Homo sapiens: one gene and its partners. The protein of the gene in region 4 purifies or fractionates together with the protein of the main gene of each other region. This does not show direct contact. Each region holds a gene or a part of one and is shown on either strand. Other genes may lie near its edges.

Region 1 (3,916 bases), on a different chromosome or scaffold from region 4:
GTCTTTAACTTAAGTTCTGTCCTAGTCTTATGTTTTCATTTAACTTAGCATTCTTCTCTGAGCCTTATCTGTCCTACAATGCTCTGCTTCTCCCTAAGTTCATTTGTTATTTCCTTTTTCCTGATATTTCCAGTATATTAGCAACTTAGGTTTTATTCTTATTTATTCTCTTATCAATGGTGTGGACTGTTTGTGTTGTTAAACGTCTTCAAGGACTCTTGTGGCCCTAGATCTCCTATTTGTAATGAAGGTGTTTCTTTCTCACTTTCTTTTTTAACTTCATCAAAAAGAGTATCTATTGATTGCTCAATGGATTTATCAGTGTGCCAAGCTGAAACACGCCACCTAAGTCAGCAGGCACTATACAGCTCACTCACTGCTAGCTTGTTTTTTGTCTCAATCTAACCTGGTTTTGTTCTTGATTATTTCTTTAGCAAACTTTTAACATCACAGTCCTGGCCAGGCACAGTGGCTCATGCCTGTAATCTCAGCACTTTGGGAGGCCAAGGGGAGGATCACTTGAGGCCTAGAATTCAAGACCAGCCTGGGCAGCAAAATGTGACCCCATCTTTACAAAGAAAAATTTAAAAGTTAGCCAGGCAAGGTGGAGCATGCCTATAGTCCTAGCTACTCAGGAGGCTGAGGCAGTAGGATCCTTTGAGTCCAGTAGTTCGAGGCTGCAGTGAGCTGTGATCACACCACTGCATTCCAGCCAGGCAATAGAGCAAGACCCTGTCTCTAAAAAATAAAAAAAAAAGTAAAAGCCACAGTTCATTCTACCTGAGTATTCTGTCGGCTTTGACATAATTAGTAACTTTTATCTCAAAACAGTCTTATTTTCATTGGTTGTTTCTTAGGCATTTTAGAAGGAAAAAGGCAGAAAATGTGGCATTTGAAACAGTCCCTGGGGGTACTCAGTTACTCCCCATACAAGTGCCTTCTTTTCTGAAAAAGGGAACTCTATTATTCTTTTTCTTCTTCCTTTTCTTCTACTGTTGCTCTTCTTTCTCTTTCTCTCTTTTCTTTTCTCTCTCTTTCTCTCTCTCTTTCTTTTCTTTCTTTTTCTTTCTGCTTCCTTTTCTTCTTTCTTTCTTTCTTTCTTTCTTTCTTTCTTTCTTTCTTTCTTTCTCTCCCTCTCTCTCTCTCTCTTTCTTTCTCTCTCTCTCTCTTTCTCTCGGTCTCTGTCACTTAGGTTGGAGCACAGTGGCAGGAACTTGATTCACTGCAGCCTCGACTTCCTGGGCTCAAGTGATCCTCCCACCTCAGCCTCCCAACTAGCTGGGACCACAGGTGCATGCCGCTACACCTGGCTAATTTTAAAATATTTTTTATAGAGATAGGGTCTCGTTATGTTGCCCAGACTGGTCTCAAACTCCTGAGCTTAAGCAGTCCTCCTGCCTCGGCCTCCCAAAGTGCTGGTATTACAAGTGTGTGCCACCACACCTGGCCTCTTTCATATTATTTTTTTTTTTTCAGAGACAGAGTCTCACTGTGTTGCCCAGGCTGGAGTGCAGTGGTGCGGTCTTGGCTCACTACAACCTCTGCCTCCCGGGTTCAAGCAATTCTCCCGCCTCAGCCTCCCGAGTAGCTGGGACTACAGGTGCACGTCGCCACGCCTGGCTAATTTTTTTTATTTTAGTAGAGACGGGGTTTTACCATGTTGCCCAGGCTGGTCTCAATCTCCTGAGCTCAGGCAATCTGCCCACCTCGGCCTCCCAAAGTGCTAGGAGTGCTCTTTCATATTCTTTAGACTTCTTGGTATCTACAGGTATTTCCTAGTTCCACTAGTTACACGAAAGACCTTTAATCATGATTTTTAAAGATTCTTATTCTTGTTTTCTTCTGTCCACTGGGAACACACCCAAAAGCAGTTTTATAAGCTCTTGTTTCCAGTCATTCACTGTTGAGACTCACCTCCCACTTCTTTTTCCTGGGTAGAAATTGAGGGAGTTGTTGAATAATGATATATGACATATTTACCTAAACTAAATAAAATACATACACGTGAAAATAATGGAACATGTACATCATAGCCAGTGTTAGGCTTTTTAAGTGCTAGAAACTATATTTTAATTTATTTTCTTAATAATATATGGTGTACATTTTAGACATTCAATAACTTAAATTTTAAGAACACTAGATTATCCTGTAGCAAAGAAACAGGAATGAGGACGTGACCTATATCTGTCATTTCTGGAGAACTGTTACACCCTGTTTTATTTTATGACCACAGAATAATTAAGAGAATAGTGCAAACAACATTGCTGGTGATAAAGGCTAAGGAATTGGATTTTAAGACTTTCAAAATATAAAGAAAATCAGTTTGGCATCAAAGTATGTGTGCGACTATCTGAATGGTTAATATTAAACATAGCATGCTGGCAATACACTGCTGTGTATTGGAGAAATCGGCAATTTTAAAATCCGCTATATTGAATACAGAGATGACTTAATCTAATTTTGAACATTTAATTGTAAATTGCTCCAAGTTTGCCATTTGTATCTTCCAGTATGAGTTGATAACTGCAATATATAAACTCCCAGAGAGTGTATACAATCTTTGACTCTGGCTAATGACTAGCAAAACAGGCTGTGTCCATTTAATGAGTAATTTTTGCCTTCAAAGGAGAGTTGTAATTATAACCATTTGGCCTATAAAAGGAAATTATGGGGAAATTTTCCTCACGTGGATCTTGAGGTTTATATAGATAGTTACTGTGCAGTGACTCCAAAGTTTCAGTTTCTTTTGTACTTTTATTATATGAGCTCTTCAGGTAACTTTGTTCCTTGGAATAATTCTTAAGAGAATGAACTGAATAAAAGGCTTTAAAATTTTCCATCTGCCCTTTACCTAGTCAAGTCCTGACTTTACAAATGGAAAGTTCTCGAATTCTGTGTAGCAGGTACACAGCTGTACAAAGCATACCACTTGCCATGCCATGTTCCTCTGTGCCAGATTTTCTTGCTTTTTTCCTTTTTAGCTGCTGTGTTGAAATATGAAAACAATGTCATGAATATCAGGCAGTTTAACTGTTCTCCACACCCCTACTGGCTTCCAAACTTTATGGATGTTTTCACATGGTCTTTGCCTTTTGTTGGGGAAAAAGGTAAGAGAACTAAAGCACATGTCTCATCAGTTGTTTGGTGACTGAGCATACCTTATATTTGCATGAGCCCCTCCATGATTCAGAAATGTTTTCTAATTTTGTTTGTTCTCTACATAGATTTTTTTTTTTTTTTTCTGAGATGGAGTCTCGCTCTGTCACCCAGGCTGGAGTGCAGTGGCACGATCTCAGCTAACTACAACCTCCGCCTCCCAGGTTCAAGCAATTCTCCTGCCTCAGCCTTCTGAGGAGCTGGGATTATAGGCACGTGCCACTGCACCCGGCTAATTTTTGCATTTTAGTAGAGACAGGGTTTCACCATATTGGCCAGGCTGGTCTCAAACTCCTGACCTTAAGTGATCCGCCCTCCTCAGCCTCCCAAAGTGCTGGGATTACAGGTGTGAGCCACCGTGCCCAGCCTCTACATAGATTTGTAAATGGCATGTAATTGGTTCTTAAATTTTAATATATTATGGTTTTTTTATTGTAAATATCAATTTAAAGTAGCTGACCTACTATGATCAAGATGTTAAAATAACATAGTTACTTGTCATTCCCTCAGATTTCTTCAGTACTGAAGAGATTTAAACAGAATTTATTGTCCTTACAATTTTATTTGTACAGCTACTCAAATTAGCTAAGCCTGTTGGACGTAGGCCTGTTGGCTTAACTTTGTAAAGTGGGAAAAAAATTTTCTCACGTGTGTATCAGTGTGGGAAGAAGCTCTGAACAGCAATCCGGTAAAATCAAGTAATTAGGCAATAGATCTTCAAAGACTCCAGACTTTTACTGGAGCAAGTAATCTACCCAAA
Region 2 (3,916 bases), on a different chromosome or scaffold from region 4:
TTTGCTGAATGAATCAAAGCATTGTATTGCACCTCCTCTTCTAAGAGAAAACAGACCAGCTCTTCAAGAGACCATCGTGGTAAGTAAGAGTACTCTTAAACATCAGGAAAACGTTACACTCACCCATGGTGACATAAGGCAACTTATCAGTTGATCCATGAGGATAGATGCTGTAGAGGTGAGGTCCAGTAACATCTACTCCCCCTAAAACTAGGGCTGCACCAATGTAACCTTGATACCTGGTGATCAGAGTATGCATAAGAAAAAAAACATGAGTCCACAAAGCATCACTGTAACTTAGCCAAAAGTTGCATGAGAAGTCAGGTAACAAAAAGTTTTCCTTAAGACTGTTTCATTAAGGGGTTATTGTTTTGATGGGAACAAAAAAGGGAAGGGAACATTAGATGAACATCTACTGTCAGCCAGTATAAACTATAAATTATGTGAGGCACTCCACACACCTGATTTCAGCTCAGCCTCACAGCCCCCATTATTATTATTTTTTTGAGACAGGGTCTCACTCTGTCACCCAGGCTGCAGTACAGTGGTATTATCACGGCTCACTGCAGCCTCAACCTCCCCAGGCTCAAGCAATCCTCCCACCTCAGCCTCCTAAGTAGCTGGGACTACAGGTGTGCACCACCACACCTGGCTAATTTTTGTATTTTTTTTTGGAGAGATGGCGTCTCGCCAAATTGCCCAGGCTGGTCTCAAACTCCTGGACTCAAGCAATCCTCCCACCTTGGCCTCCCAAAGTGCTGGGATTACAGGTGTGAGCCACCACACCCAGCCCACAGTCCCCTTTAAAAGACAACATTATCATTCCCATTTTAGAAAAGAAAAAACCAACCCAGAGACATTAAGAACTTGCCCGGTCTCAGAACCAAATTGGACTGACTCCAAAGATTATCAGCACTTTTCCCATCACACCTCTCTGTGATCAGCACATAAGCTACCTCCACAGTTAACAATGAGGAGGTGCTAAGCTCAGCTGTTCCACTGTTCAAATTATCAACCTGGCCACAAAGGCCAGGCATGGTGGCTCACACCTATAATCCCAGCACTTTAGGAGGCTGAGGTGGGCAAATCACTTGAGTCCAGGAGTTCAAGACCAGCCTGGGCAATATGGCGAGACCCTGTCTACAAAAAATACAAAAAATTAGCAAGGCATGGTGGCATGTACCTGTAGTCCCAGATACTTGGGAGGCTAAGGTGAGAGGATCCCTTGAGCCTGGGAGGCAGAGGTTGCAGTGAGCCATGTACACGCCACTGCACTCCAGCCAGGACAGAGCAAGAGTTGTCTCAAAAAAAAAAAAAAAAAAAAAAAGTATCAACCTCACCACAGCCCAAACAGAAAAATGGCTCATGTCGAAACACCTCTGCCTTTGAATTAACCCATATTATAATTACATATATGAACTCGTATCAAAAAAAAAGTATTTCATCATTCAGGAAAGTGAATATTAAAATAACTCCATGATAGCCTAAGAAACCACTGCTACTACACATAGGATAAACTTACACTTCCTCAGGAACATCACAGGAATATATTTTCCACCCACACCATCTCCACTTAATTGTGCACATATTTGTTCCTTTGGACCCTTTTTTTCCATTTCTATAGATTCCTTTCCCTGTATTTGGTACAGCTTTTTAACATTAGGAGGCCAATGTTACTCCTAACGTGGGAGGCTGAGGCATGAGAATCGCTTGAACCTGGGTGGCCGAGGTTGCACTGAGCCGAGGTCGCATCACTGCACTCCAGCCTGGGCAACAGAGTGACACTTAGTCTCAAAAAATAAAAAATAAAAAAAATCAAAAGAAGAATTAGATCTACATTTGTCAACATAAATTGCTCTCAATTTATCTAGCTGTGCTAGATAAACATGCTGGATTTAAAGTTCTCCACTGTGAGCCTTTAGCTCTTTGGGAAGGAAAACAAAACTGACACATACTGAATTTGCCAAACGATGTAATCATTAAAATACAAATAAATTAACATGAGAACCAAAGTCATAACTTTAGACTGTCTGAGACATGGCCACACATCCAGAAGTGCTCTAAGTAAACAGAACAGTGGTCCAATACTTGCCCTGTTCCTTGATTACCAAATTGTTATTTCATTTGTAAGTAAAAACTTCAAAAACTTCCTAGGAAAAGATTTTAGCAGTAGCCTAAAAAGAGAATAGAGCCCCAGACAAGGGAAGAAACTGGTCCAAGGCCCCACGTGTGAGCTAGCAGCAGGGTCAGACTAGGGCCAAGGGCTCCAGGAAGAGAAGCCACAATCGCCAGTCCCACCACCCCCAACTAGTCCAGTGCCTATTCCACTATGCCAACTGTCTACTGAACAGGGTGTTTAAATAAAGTTAATAATAATCAGCTACTTGCCTTCTAAGCTAAAATATCAACTGTTAGATGCCTTTAAAATAATCAAGATGTTTTGGCAAATTATTGAAGTCATTAAAATTTTAATAATTTATTGATCCACAAATTCTACTACCAGGACTCTATTCTAAGGATATAAACAGACAAATGTACAGAAATGAATGCACAAGGATGTTTACAACAGCATTGTTTATGATGATTAAAAAAGTGGAAACAGCCAGGGAGAAATGGCTAAACTGATCCAACTGTACAACAGAACATCACCCAATCATTAAAAATCATGCTAAGCCGAGTGTGGTGGCTCACACCTGTAATCCCAAAACCTAGGGAGGTCATGGTAGGAGGATTACTTGAGGCCAGGAGTTTGAGACCAGCCTAAGCAACATAGTGAGACATCGTCTACAAAAAGTTTAAAAAAACAAACACAACAAAAAATTAGACAAACATGGTGGCGTGGGCCTTTAGTCCCAGCTACTCAGGAGGCTGAGGCGAGCAGATGACTTGAGCCTAGAATTTTAAGGCTCAAGTCATCCACCATGCACTGCCTTTAAGTGAGCCATGATCATGCCACTGCACTCCAGCCTGGGCAACAGAAAGAGACCCTATCTAAACTAAAATAAAATTTAACAACCATGCTGCATTTTCTCCTGCGCTACTGACGGTAGTACAACGTTTGTCAAGGGAGAGCTTTGACAACATCTTTCAAAATGTTAAATGTGCAAAACTAAATAAATGTGCATTTATTCTAGAATACAGGCTAAGGAATTAAATCACATGAGTACCCAAGGCTTCTATGTTCCAAAGGTTCGTAGAATACCTAATAATACCTTAAATACCTTAAAATGGGCAATATCATTAATGTTTAAAAATTGGTTAAGTTGTAACATAGCCACAAAACGGATACTATGACACCACCAAAAATTATGATAATGATTAATGGTTCTTAAGCTTTTATGGGTCAGAGAGCCCTCTTAAAAATTGATTAAAATTGTGGAAATTTTCCCCCATAAGAGTACACACAAACATTTTTTCTGATTTCAGGAGAGTTACAAGTATTCAGAACTTCTCTATGGGCTCAAGAGAAAAACTCATCTACTGACAGGAACAATATTTGTAACATACCATTATGTAAACAAGGGAAATTACAAAACAACACATACAAGGATATATATCTAGAACAAAAGGTATGAAAAAACAGATCTTCAAAAATTTACAGTGTATGTGTCTAAGTGGCAGAACATCAGGTGGCATTTACTTCCTTCTATCCAGGTTTCTAGTGTCTACGTTTTTTACAATTATATTATTTTTATAATTTTAAAAAGTTATTTTCATTTTGAAATGCCCTAGTATAGAACCCATTCAAGATGCACTGTTAGGTGAGAAGACTAGGCTATACTACAGTCAGTACAACTATAATCCCATTTTCTAAATATTACTGAACTTATTTTTAAAACCTTGAAGGGTGTGTAACAATCTCTTAGCACTAACTGCTCGTGGGTGGCAGGAATCCAGGTAGTTTTTTACATTCTTT
Region 3 (3,916 bases), on a different chromosome or scaffold from region 4:
TACATCCTGGGTAACTGAAAGTTAAAACATATAGAAAAATTTCCAAGAAGATTCATTAATTGACTCTCAGTTAATTCATTTTATGCTTACACTCTCTTGGTGTTTTCATGTGTTTATTTATTAATGCAACCATTTACACGTTCTCCAATTGGCTGAGCCCTGTTTTAGGATCTAATGACACAAAGATGATTTTAAGCAGTGTCTCTCACTTTGGAAATTTATTGTCTAGTTTGGACTATGAGGGAATTATTTTCATATATACAATTTTTTTTCCAGGAGTAGCCATTCTTCTTTCAGTTAGTCAGGGGTCTTTTGGATTTCCCTCTCTTTCATTGGATGACATAGTTAAACTATATTGTGCTTTCTCTCATGCAGGGCAGCCACTGATCACAATGTGGATAATACAACAGAAATATTCAGGGAGTGGTTGAAAAATGTACAGAGACTCTATCACTATGTGGAGTGGAGGCCTATGGATGAACCAGAGTGAGTAGCAAGTGCGAAATTTGTAAACTCATTATTTACCCTTCCTCTTTAACTAGCTCTTTAGGGCTTCCAGGTTTGGAGGTACATGTGACTTTTCATTGTCTTTCATTTCTGTAGCTATGTGAGTTCTGAATATCTGCCATTTCTCCCTTTTAGAGATCTTCACAGTACTCTCTTGCTGTTTACTCCCACAGCTGCCAGCCAAGTTCAGATTTTCATTACTTCATAAATAAATTGCCATGACAGTTTATATTTTTAAATATTGATATTATTTATTCATATTTTAAACAAACTTTTATATTTGGAGGATCATATTGAAAATGTGTATACTTTCTACATAGAGCTTGCTTTTTTCAACTTTTATCTTGATAATCATTCTATAGCAATAGTTAAGGAGCTAATTTTCATTTTTTTTACTGCATAATCACTGTTGTATGTGCATTTACCATAATTATTTAATTGATCCCCTACTGATGCTCATTTAGGTAATTTCCTATCTTAACCATAGAAATTCCTTCTTTCTTTCTTTTCCTTCTTTTCTTTCTTTTCTTTTCTTCGCTTCTCTTCTCTTCTTTCTCTCTCTCTCTCTCTCTCTCTTTCTCTCTTTCCTTCTTTCTTTCAAGACAGGGTCTCACTCTGTCACCCCAGCTGGAGTACAGTGGCATGACCATAGCTCCACTGTAACCTCGTACTCCTGGGTTCAGGCAATACTCCTCACTCAACCTCCTGAGTAGCTAAGACCACAGCCATGCACCACTATGCCTGGCTAATTTTATTTTTATTTTTTGTAGAGACATGATCTCACCATGTTGTCCAGGCTGGTCTTGAACTCCTGGCCTCAAGCGATCCTCCCACCTTGGCCTTCCAAAGTGCTGGGATTACAGGTGTGAGCCTTTGTGCCTGGTTACCATAACAATTTCTTTCTTTTTTTTTTTTTTTGAGACAGAGTCTTGCTATGTCACCCAGGCTGGAGTGCAGTGGTGCAATCTTGGCTCACTGCAACCTCCGCCTCCTGGGTTCAAGCAATTCTCCTGCCTCAGCCTCCCGAGTAGCTGGGACTACAGGTGTGTGCCACCACACCCAGCTATTTTTTTGTATTTTGAGTAGAGAGGGGATTTCACTATGTTAGCCAGGATGGTCTCGATCTCCTGACCCTGTGATCTGCCCGCCTTGACCTCCCAAAGTGCTGAGATTACAGGTGTGAGCCACCGTGCCCGGCCACCATAGCAATTTATTAATTGCTTCTATCTCCAAGTCATCCTACATACCATACAGTCAAATCAATCTACCTCAAATACAAATGAAATGGTTTCATTTCTTTATTAAAAATACTTCACTTACTCTTTAGGACCTGAACAAAGTTCAAACACCTAAGACTTATATTTTTAAAATTCCATGAATTTAGCACCAAAAGAAAATGTGCTTTATCCAGAACGTTTCTTTTATTTCCAAACCCCACACTGTTGCTTGTGCAGGTCCTGGAAGACCCTTTCCTTCTTTATAACTAATTCTTATCCTAAATCATGCCTACTATAGAAACCTATTCTTAATCACTCAGTTATAAATATCTACCTTTGTCTCAACAATTGTATTGCTTATATTCTATGTCATCCTTTTTGGCACAATGATATACGCAACCAACATTTTCCCCCTATGCAATTAATGTATTTTTTTTCTAAATAAGTTGTAAGTTCTTTGGCAGGGGCTAGAATATATAAACACTTTATATTCCCCCTCTCCCCTCAGAGCCATGTTCTTGGCAGGCACTAAATTAATACTGGTTGGATGAACAAATAAGAACAAGAATAAATGTATTTAAAACTTACTATTATAAATGTTCCCAAAGCTACTACAGTTTTACTTTAAGGAACTGTAGAAATAGAATGAAGGAGTTGCCTGAATTTCTTCCCCAGAGAAGTCATTTATTGAAAGCCAAATTTGTATTATAGTAATAATAAATGCCATTCCAGAACAAGTTTCTGTTCTTCTAGTCTTTCTATATGTAAGAATTATTATAAATATTTATATTATAAAGAAATATATATAAATATGATATAATATATACATATGTGTTTCTCAAATCCAAGCCCATGGACTGTATATCAAGCAAAATTTAACAGTGAAGTCTGAACACCGTAAAAGATTGTAAACACTCCTTTAGAGTGCCTTATAATGGAGTTTGGCCTAACAAAAATGGCACAGAAATACTTTGTGTCCCTTCTTTGCACCTTGGTAATGTTCTCTGCAGCCAGGTTTTGACTAAATATATTATATGCCAAGGTCAGTGTGAAAAAATATTAGAACAGGCATTTTTGGGGGGAATATATTTAGAAAAATGAGAATTCCACTGATTTTCATTGAAACAATAACTGGGGAAGATATTCCAGAGAATTCCTGTGCTGTACATAGTTTTATTAACCTTATTTGTTTAGTTACAGTCTCATTGTTTTTGCAGTTTTTCACTCACTAAAACAAATGTACTGCCAGTGCAGCTATGAGATCTTGAAGTGGTGGCCAGTTTTGGGTTACTGCAACAGTATCAATGTCCGTGCCAGCTGGGTGCCTTCAGAAGGGTTTTGGAGCGTGCTCCAACCCACTTGCCTATGTGGCCATGAAGGAGTCTTGGCCTGGCTGTTTTGTGAATCTTGATAGAGATCCCACGACCTCACTTTACCTAAGATAGATCAATGTGTTAGGCTGTGTGGAATCATTTGTGGAGACTCCAACAAGTAGATTAAACCTTTGATTTTCCTGGGAAACTCATGTTTTACACTGCATACTCTCCAAATCTATTCGATGTCGGGATGTATAAAAATTGTCTAGGAACATGAGCTTTTTGCTTGGATTCAAATCTTGATTGTGCCCCATTGTGTAACATTGGACGAATGACTTAACTGCTCTACCCTGATATCCTCACCTGTGAAATGCAGAGAATAGCAGTACTCACCTCAAAGGGCTCTCATTAGAACCCACTGAAATATTTCATGTAAAGATTCTTGTATACAATGAGCAGTGAGTTACTTGACTTCTCATTGCTCCGGTTTCCTCATCTGTAATATGGGGATGATGATAACAATAATAATAGTATCTACTTCCTGGGATTGATAGAAGATTAAATGAATACATATAAACATTTAGGACAGAGCCTGGTACATGTAGGCACTCAATAATGATGAGCTATTATTATTATTTTAGGTCTTACCCTGATGAAATTGGACCAAAGCACTGGCCAACCTCCCGGTTTGCCCATGTGATGAAACTACGACAGGCAGCCCTTCGAACTGCGAGGGAAAAATGGTCAGACTACATTCTGGTAAAAACAGATGTTTGATTTCTTGACAACTGTCATCTCAGGTGTATCCAAATCAGTCGTCCAAAAACTAGAACCATGGAAGCAATCAAAACAACCTTTTTGATTAGGCAGTGCCTC
Region 4 (5,934 bases):
AAAAAAAAATTGAAAATGGTTCTTGCTGCATTTTTATGAACAAGTTAGAAAAATAGGAACTAATGCAAATTGTTATTGTTGTTAATTAATTAGATTAGAATTAGATTATTTGGACTGTTTCAGATTAATATCAGCCTGGAGGGAGGTGTCTAGTGGTGAGCCACAGGGCTCTGTCCTGTTTATTGTTATCAGTGGTTTGGACAAAGACACAGAAGATTAGCACAGTAGTTGGCTAGGGCCACCATGACAAAATACCACAGACTGGGTGGCTTAAACAACACAATTTTTTTTTTTTTTGAGATGGAGTCTCGCTCTGTTGCCCAGGCTGGAGTGCAGTGGCACGATCTTGGCTCACCACAACCTCCACCTCCCGGGTTCAAGCGACTCTCCTGCCTCAGTCTCCTGAGTAGCTGGGACTACAGGCACATGCCACCATGCCTGACTTAATTTTTTTTTTTTTTTTTTGAGACGGAGTTTTGCTCTTGTTGCCCAGGCTGGAGTGCAGTGGAGCCATCTCAGCTAACCTGAACCTCTGCCTCCCAGGTTCAAGCGATTCTCCTGCCTCACCCTCCCTGGTAGCTGGGATTACGCCACCATGCCTGGCTAATTTTGTATTTTTAGTAGAGACGGGGTTTCTCCATGTTGGTCAGGCTGATCTTGAACTCCCGACCAGGTGATCCACCTGCCTTGGCCTCCCGAAGTGCTGGGATTACAGGCATGAGCCACCGCGCCTGGCCACAACACAAATTTATTTTGTCACAGTCTGGAGGCTGGAAGCCCAAGATCAAGGTGTTGGCAGGTTTGGTTTCTCCTGAGGCCTCTCTCCTTGGCTTGCAGTTGGCCACGTTCTCACAGTGTCATCATAGGGCCTTTTCTCATTTTTTTTTAATCCTTCAATTACATGCAAGGGCCTTTTCTGTATACACACACACCCCTGATGTCTCTTCCTCTCATAAGGACACCAGTTCTATTGGATTAGGATCCCCTACCCTTATAATGTTATTTAGCCTTAGTTACCTTTTTTTTTTTTTTTTTTTTTTTTTTTTTTTTTTTTTTTTTGAGATGGAGTCTGGCTCTGTCGCCCAGGCTGGAGTGCAGTGGCACCATCTCGGATCACTGCAGCCTCCACCTCCGGGTTCAAGGAATTCTCCTGCCTCAGCCTCCCGAGTAGCTGGCATTACAGGTGCACGCCACCATGCCTGGCTAATTTTTGTATTTTTAGTAGAGACGGGGTTTCACTGTGTTGGCCAGGCTGGTCTCAAACTCCTGAGCTCAAGTCGTTCTCCCGCCTCTGCTTTCCAAAGTGCTGGAATTACAGATGTGAGCCACCATGTCTGGCCAGCCTTAATTACCTTTAATTAATCTAAATAATTAAGGCCAAGTGTAGAGACATTTGGGGTTAGGGCTTCAACATATGAATTTGGGTGGGCACAATTCAGTCCATAAGAACTGGCCAGCTAAAGTTAGGGTTCATTCTGAACCACAGGGACATATTTCAGATGAGAGAAATGAAATGAGAATGGGAATGATACCTATTATAAAAACAAGAATCAGTTATTGCCAGTTCTGTAGACAAGGCAGGGTCAGGTGGAGATTAGCAACACTGATACCTACAACATGGCTGAAAACACTGAGGTAAAGATAGGCTGCATTAGGAAGTATGGTGTCCATGAAAAGGGAGGTGACAACTCCTTGCTCACCTGGAGGGTGGAATTTTCTTCTGGATGCCAACAGGTAGAGGGTGTCAAGTGAGGGGTTGCATAAGAGGTAGAGAAGTTATTGAGCAAAAACCTTGGCACCAGACATATACAGGCATTAGCCAATGTGGTTTGAGCAGCTAAACCAAGTGGCAAAAGCTTGCCCTTTCAAAGACTTGCAGTTTGGGGATAGAAGCACTTTCAGTCCTGGCCAAAAAAACTATGGGCGTGGAATCTTGCAGGTATGCCGTGAATATCTGTTGAATAAAAAAAAAAAAAAAAAAAAAGGCCAGACAGGCTGACTCAGGCCTGTAGTCCCAGCACTTTGGGAGGCTGAGGTGGGAGGATCGCTTGAGCTCCAGAGTTTGAGACCAGCCTGGGCAACATAGTGAGATCCCTGTCTCTACAAAAAATAAAAATATTAGCAGGGCATAGTGGTGCATACCTGTAGTCCCAGCTACTCTGGAGGCTGAAGTGGGAGGATTACTTGAGCTCAGGAGTTCGCAGCTGCAGCGAGCGTCACTGCACTCCAGCCTGGGTGACAGAGTGAGACCCTGTCTCTTAAAAAAAAAAAAAAAAAAGGCCGGGCGCAGTGACTCTTGCCTGTAATCCCAGCACTTTGGGAGGCCGAGGTGGGTAGATCATGAGGTCAGGAATTGAAGACCAGCCTGGCCAACATGGTGAAACCCCCCCCGTCTCTACTAAAAATACAAAAATTAGCTGGGCATGGTAGCACATGCCTGTAATCCCGCCTACTCAGGAGGCTGAGGCAGGAGAATCGCTTGAACCCAGGAGGCGGAGGTTGCAGTGAGCTGAGATTGCACCACTGCACTCCAGCCTGGGTGACAGAGCGAGACTCTGTCTCAGAAAAAAAAAGAAAAAGAAAGAAAGAAAAGAAAATGGGCACGGTGGCTTACTCCTGCAATCCTAACACTTTGAGAGGTTAAGGCAGGGGGCTGCTTGAGTTCAGGAACTCAAGACCAGCCTGAGCAACATAAATCTGATCTCTACTAAAAATCAAAAACAAAAAAATTAGCTGGGCTTGGTGGCACTGTGCCTGTAGTCCCAGCTATTAGGGAGGCTGAGGTGAGAGGATTGCTTGGGCCCAGGAATTTGAGGCTGCTGTGATCTGTGACTGTGCCACTACACTCCACTTGAACAACAGAGTGAGATCGTGTCTCACAAAGAAAAGAAAAAGTGGAGGCTATAAAGACTAAGGTTATACTAATTGTGACTCTCAATTGCAAGTGACAGAAAACTTATTCAAACTGGCTTCCCCAGGAGAAGGCATGTGGGGCTCCTGTAACAGGGGCTCAAACTGTGGCTGGAACTGTCTGTCTCCACCTTAGTGCTGCTTTTCCCTGCATGCCCTTCAATCTTCAGTAGGAAGGAGATAGCCACAAGCTGCTTTGGGCTGACATCCTATCAGCTTAGCAAGAAGTAAAGTCAGGTGGCAGAAAGACATCTCTTTCCTAGTGGTTTCTGCAAGGTCCTAAGGCAGATTCTGATTGGACAGGCTTGGGTCATCTGGCCATTCGTGAACCAATCCATGTGGCCAGGAGGATGGAATATGCAAATTGTCCAGGCCTGGGGCACATGTCTGGGAATGGGGTCAGGATGCAGGGGCAGTGGATGTTTCGCAGGGAAAATCAGCAGAGACCGGGGGCAGTGGTGCTTAAGAGGCTGTGGCCTCGCTGTAGGTTTCAGACTGGGAGACAAGGACTCCTGGGATCTGCAGGCAACCCTCCTCTGCTGCTGCCATCCCAGGGTGGGTGGGAGAGCTGTTAAAGTTTTGAGGGGTTGTTCATCCCCCAGCTCATGGCGTTTATCTTCCATTTGCCAGACCCATCAGCCACACCCCGTCTTACTGTGATGAGTCGCTGTTTGGCTCCCGATCTGAAGGCGCCAGCTTCGGGGCCCCGCGGATGGCGAAGGGGGATGCCGCAAAGCTCCGTGCTCTCTTGTGGACGCCACCACCTACCCCCAGGGGTAGCCACTCGCCCCGCCCCAGGGAGGCACCACTGCGAGCCATTCACCCAGCTGGTCCCTCCAAGACAGAGCCGGGGCCAGCGGCAGACTCCCAGAAGTTATCTATGGGTGGGTTACACTCTTCACGCCCCCTGAAGCGGGGACTTTCCCATTCCCTCACCCACCTGAATGTCCCCAGCACTGGTCATCCAGCCACCAGTGCCCCCCACACAAATGGGCCTCAGGATCTCAGGCCTTCCACGTCAGGGGTGACCTTCCGGAGCCCCCTGGTGACTTCCAGGGCTCGCTCAGTTAGCATTTCAGTGCCATCTACCCCACGACGAGGTGGGGCCACCCAGAAACCAAAGCCCCCTTGGAAATGATACTCTTTCATCAGGGTTGCCTATGGGGCCACGGCGACAGGTATGGCCCCTTGCCAGGGTAGGAGGACATTCATCACCCAGGGAACCCCAGGTATTAAAGAAGCCCCTGTGGGGGCAGACAGACATAGCAGGGGTGGGCAGTGCCTCCCTTTATCCTGACAATCTCTAGTCGATTCTTGCCTTTTTCTCCCGATTGCGGATTTGGGGGCCACCTCTAAGATGCCTCTCTCCAGCCCTGTCTCAACCATACTCCAAATTAGTGCCAACCCAGGGGCCTGGCACCTCCCACATCATCCATTGTCTTGCTGCCAAGTGCGAATAAACGGCGTGATTGCCAACCTGGAGGGTCCCCTCTTATCCCTTCAAGCCAAGCTTCCTGCTCAGGATTAGTTTCCAGCTAAGTCTGCAAGCCCTAGAGGAGTTTTTCCAGGCTGTCTGTGAAGCCTGGGGAACACAACGGCAACTGGGAGATTTGTGAGTGAACACTGTTTCATCTTAATATGCTTCTGAATTTATTTTCATGTACTAAATAGATCAGCTCATCAAAGCCATGAATGTCACTTTTTTTCCCCCTCAGGGTAAAGGCCATTGTTAGGCCTGAGTTGATTTAAATAACAAAGTTAAATACAACAGATAGTACAAGGATGTGGCAGGCAACATGACAGCGGTGAGTGGGTAACTGAAGTTTGGGAATCTGGGGCTTCGGGAAGCGCTGGACTCTTCCTCCCGTCGGCTTCTGGCTAATGCCACTAACTTGTGGTTGGCCGGCTCTTCCTTAGCTCAGAGTACAGACAATAGTATTTTTTTAGTTTTGTTTTTAAGTTTGTTTGTGTGTGTGTGTGTGTGTGTGTGTGTGTGTTAAGGTGGGAAATAAAACACAATGGCTAGGACTTTGCCAAGTGGAGGGTCCAAGAAAGCCAGACAGTGACATGTGTGTCTGCAGAGCACTTAGGATGCAGCCCAGGACTTAGGAAAAGCAACAAAGCCTTTGCGCAGATGGAATTGCACCCAGATTGGGCAGTGTGGGCTGGGCTCTGGGCCTCTCCTTGCCCCCGTCTTCCTGTAAGGCACCTCCAGGAGGCACCAGGATTTTAGGGAGTCCAGTTGGAAGCCACATCATCTGGTTGGTACGTCTGCCTTGGGGCAGGGAAGAGTGGACACTGCTGGGGAGGGAGACCTGCAGTGCCCAGGACCAGTGACACACAGAAACACCTGTGGGGTCAGGCAGGCCAGCTGTGCTCTCATGCAAACATGCTTTGTTTTTTGTTTGTTTGTTTGTATGTTTGTTTGTTTTTGGTGTTTCTTTTTTTTGTTTTGTTTTGTTTTTTAAGACACGGGGCCTCGTTTCCTTGCCCACCCTGGAGTGCAGTGGTGCGATCATAGCTCACTGCTGACTTGACCTCCCGGCTCAAGCCATCCTCCCCCTCAGCCTCCTGAGTGGCGGGGACTACATGCATGCACCACCATGCCTGGCTAACTTCTTTTAAAAATTTTTTTGGACTGGGCGCGGTGGTTCATGCCTGTAATCCCAGCACTTTAGGAGGCCGAGGCGGGCGGATCACGAGGTCAGGAGATCGAGACCATCCTGGCTAACACAGTGAAACCCTGTCTCTACTAAAAATACAAAAAATTAGCCGGGCGCGGTGGCAGGCGCCTGTAGTCCCAGCTACATGGGAGGCTGAGGCAGGAGAATGGCGTGAACCCAGGAGGCGGAGCTTGCAGTGAGCCGAGATCGTGCCACTGCACTCCAGCCTGGGCAACAGAGCGAGACTCTGTCTCAAAAAAAAAAAAAAAAATTTATAGAGAGGGATTTCATTCCTTCCAGTAAGAAACAAGAAAAAAAGGGAAAAAAAAGAGACATGAGTCTCACTATGTTGTACAGGCTG

What was found.
Region 1: the proteins of RITA1 (region 4) and PPP3CC purify together in Homo sapiens (affinity purification with mass spectrometry; one large-scale study listed by BioGRID and IntAct). This does not show direct contact.
Region 2: the proteins of RITA1 (region 4) and PSMB7 purify together in Homo sapiens (affinity purification with mass spectrometry, with the first as the bait; one study listed by BioGRID). This does not show direct contact.
Region 3: the proteins of RITA1 (region 4) and COLGALT2 purify together in Homo sapiens (affinity purification with mass spectrometry; one large-scale study listed by BioGRID and IntAct). This does not show direct contact.

What each region holds. Positions count from the first base shown.
Region 1 is NC_000008.11:22,524,411-22,528,326, forward strand, and holds part of PPP3CC (serine/threonine-protein phosphatase 2B catalytic subunit gamma isoform), read left to right. Parts: intron 1-2,981; coding exon 2,982-3,107; intron 3,108-3,916. UniProt on the Homo sapiens protein: Calcium-dependent, calmodulin-stimulated protein phosphatase which plays an essential role in the transduction of intracellular Ca(2+)-mediated signals. Dephosphorylates and activates transcription factor NFATC1.
Region 2 is NC_000009.12:124,405,194-124,409,109, forward strand, and holds part of PSMB7 (proteasome subunit beta type-7 precursor), read right to left. Parts: intron 240-3,916; coding exon 124-239; intron 1-123. UniProt on the Homo sapiens protein: Component of the 20S core proteasome complex involved in the proteolytic degradation of most intracellular proteins. This complex plays numerous essential roles within the cell by associating with different regulatory particles.
Region 3 is NC_000001.11:183,974,980-183,978,895, reverse strand, and holds part of COLGALT2 (procollagen galactosyltransferase 2), read left to right. Parts: intron 1-375; coding exon 376-486; intron 487-3,681; coding exon 3,682-3,799; intron 3,800-3,916. UniProt on the Homo sapiens protein: Beta-galactosyltransferase that transfers beta-galactose to hydroxylysine residues of collagen.
Region 4 is NC_000012.12:113,187,770-113,193,703, forward strand, and holds the end of RITA1 (RBPJ-interacting and tubulin-associated protein 1), read left to right. Parts: intron 1-3,540; coding exon 3,541-4,048; 3' UTR 4,049-4,599; downstream 4,600-5,934. UniProt on the Homo sapiens protein: Tubulin-binding protein that acts as a negative regulator of Notch signaling pathway.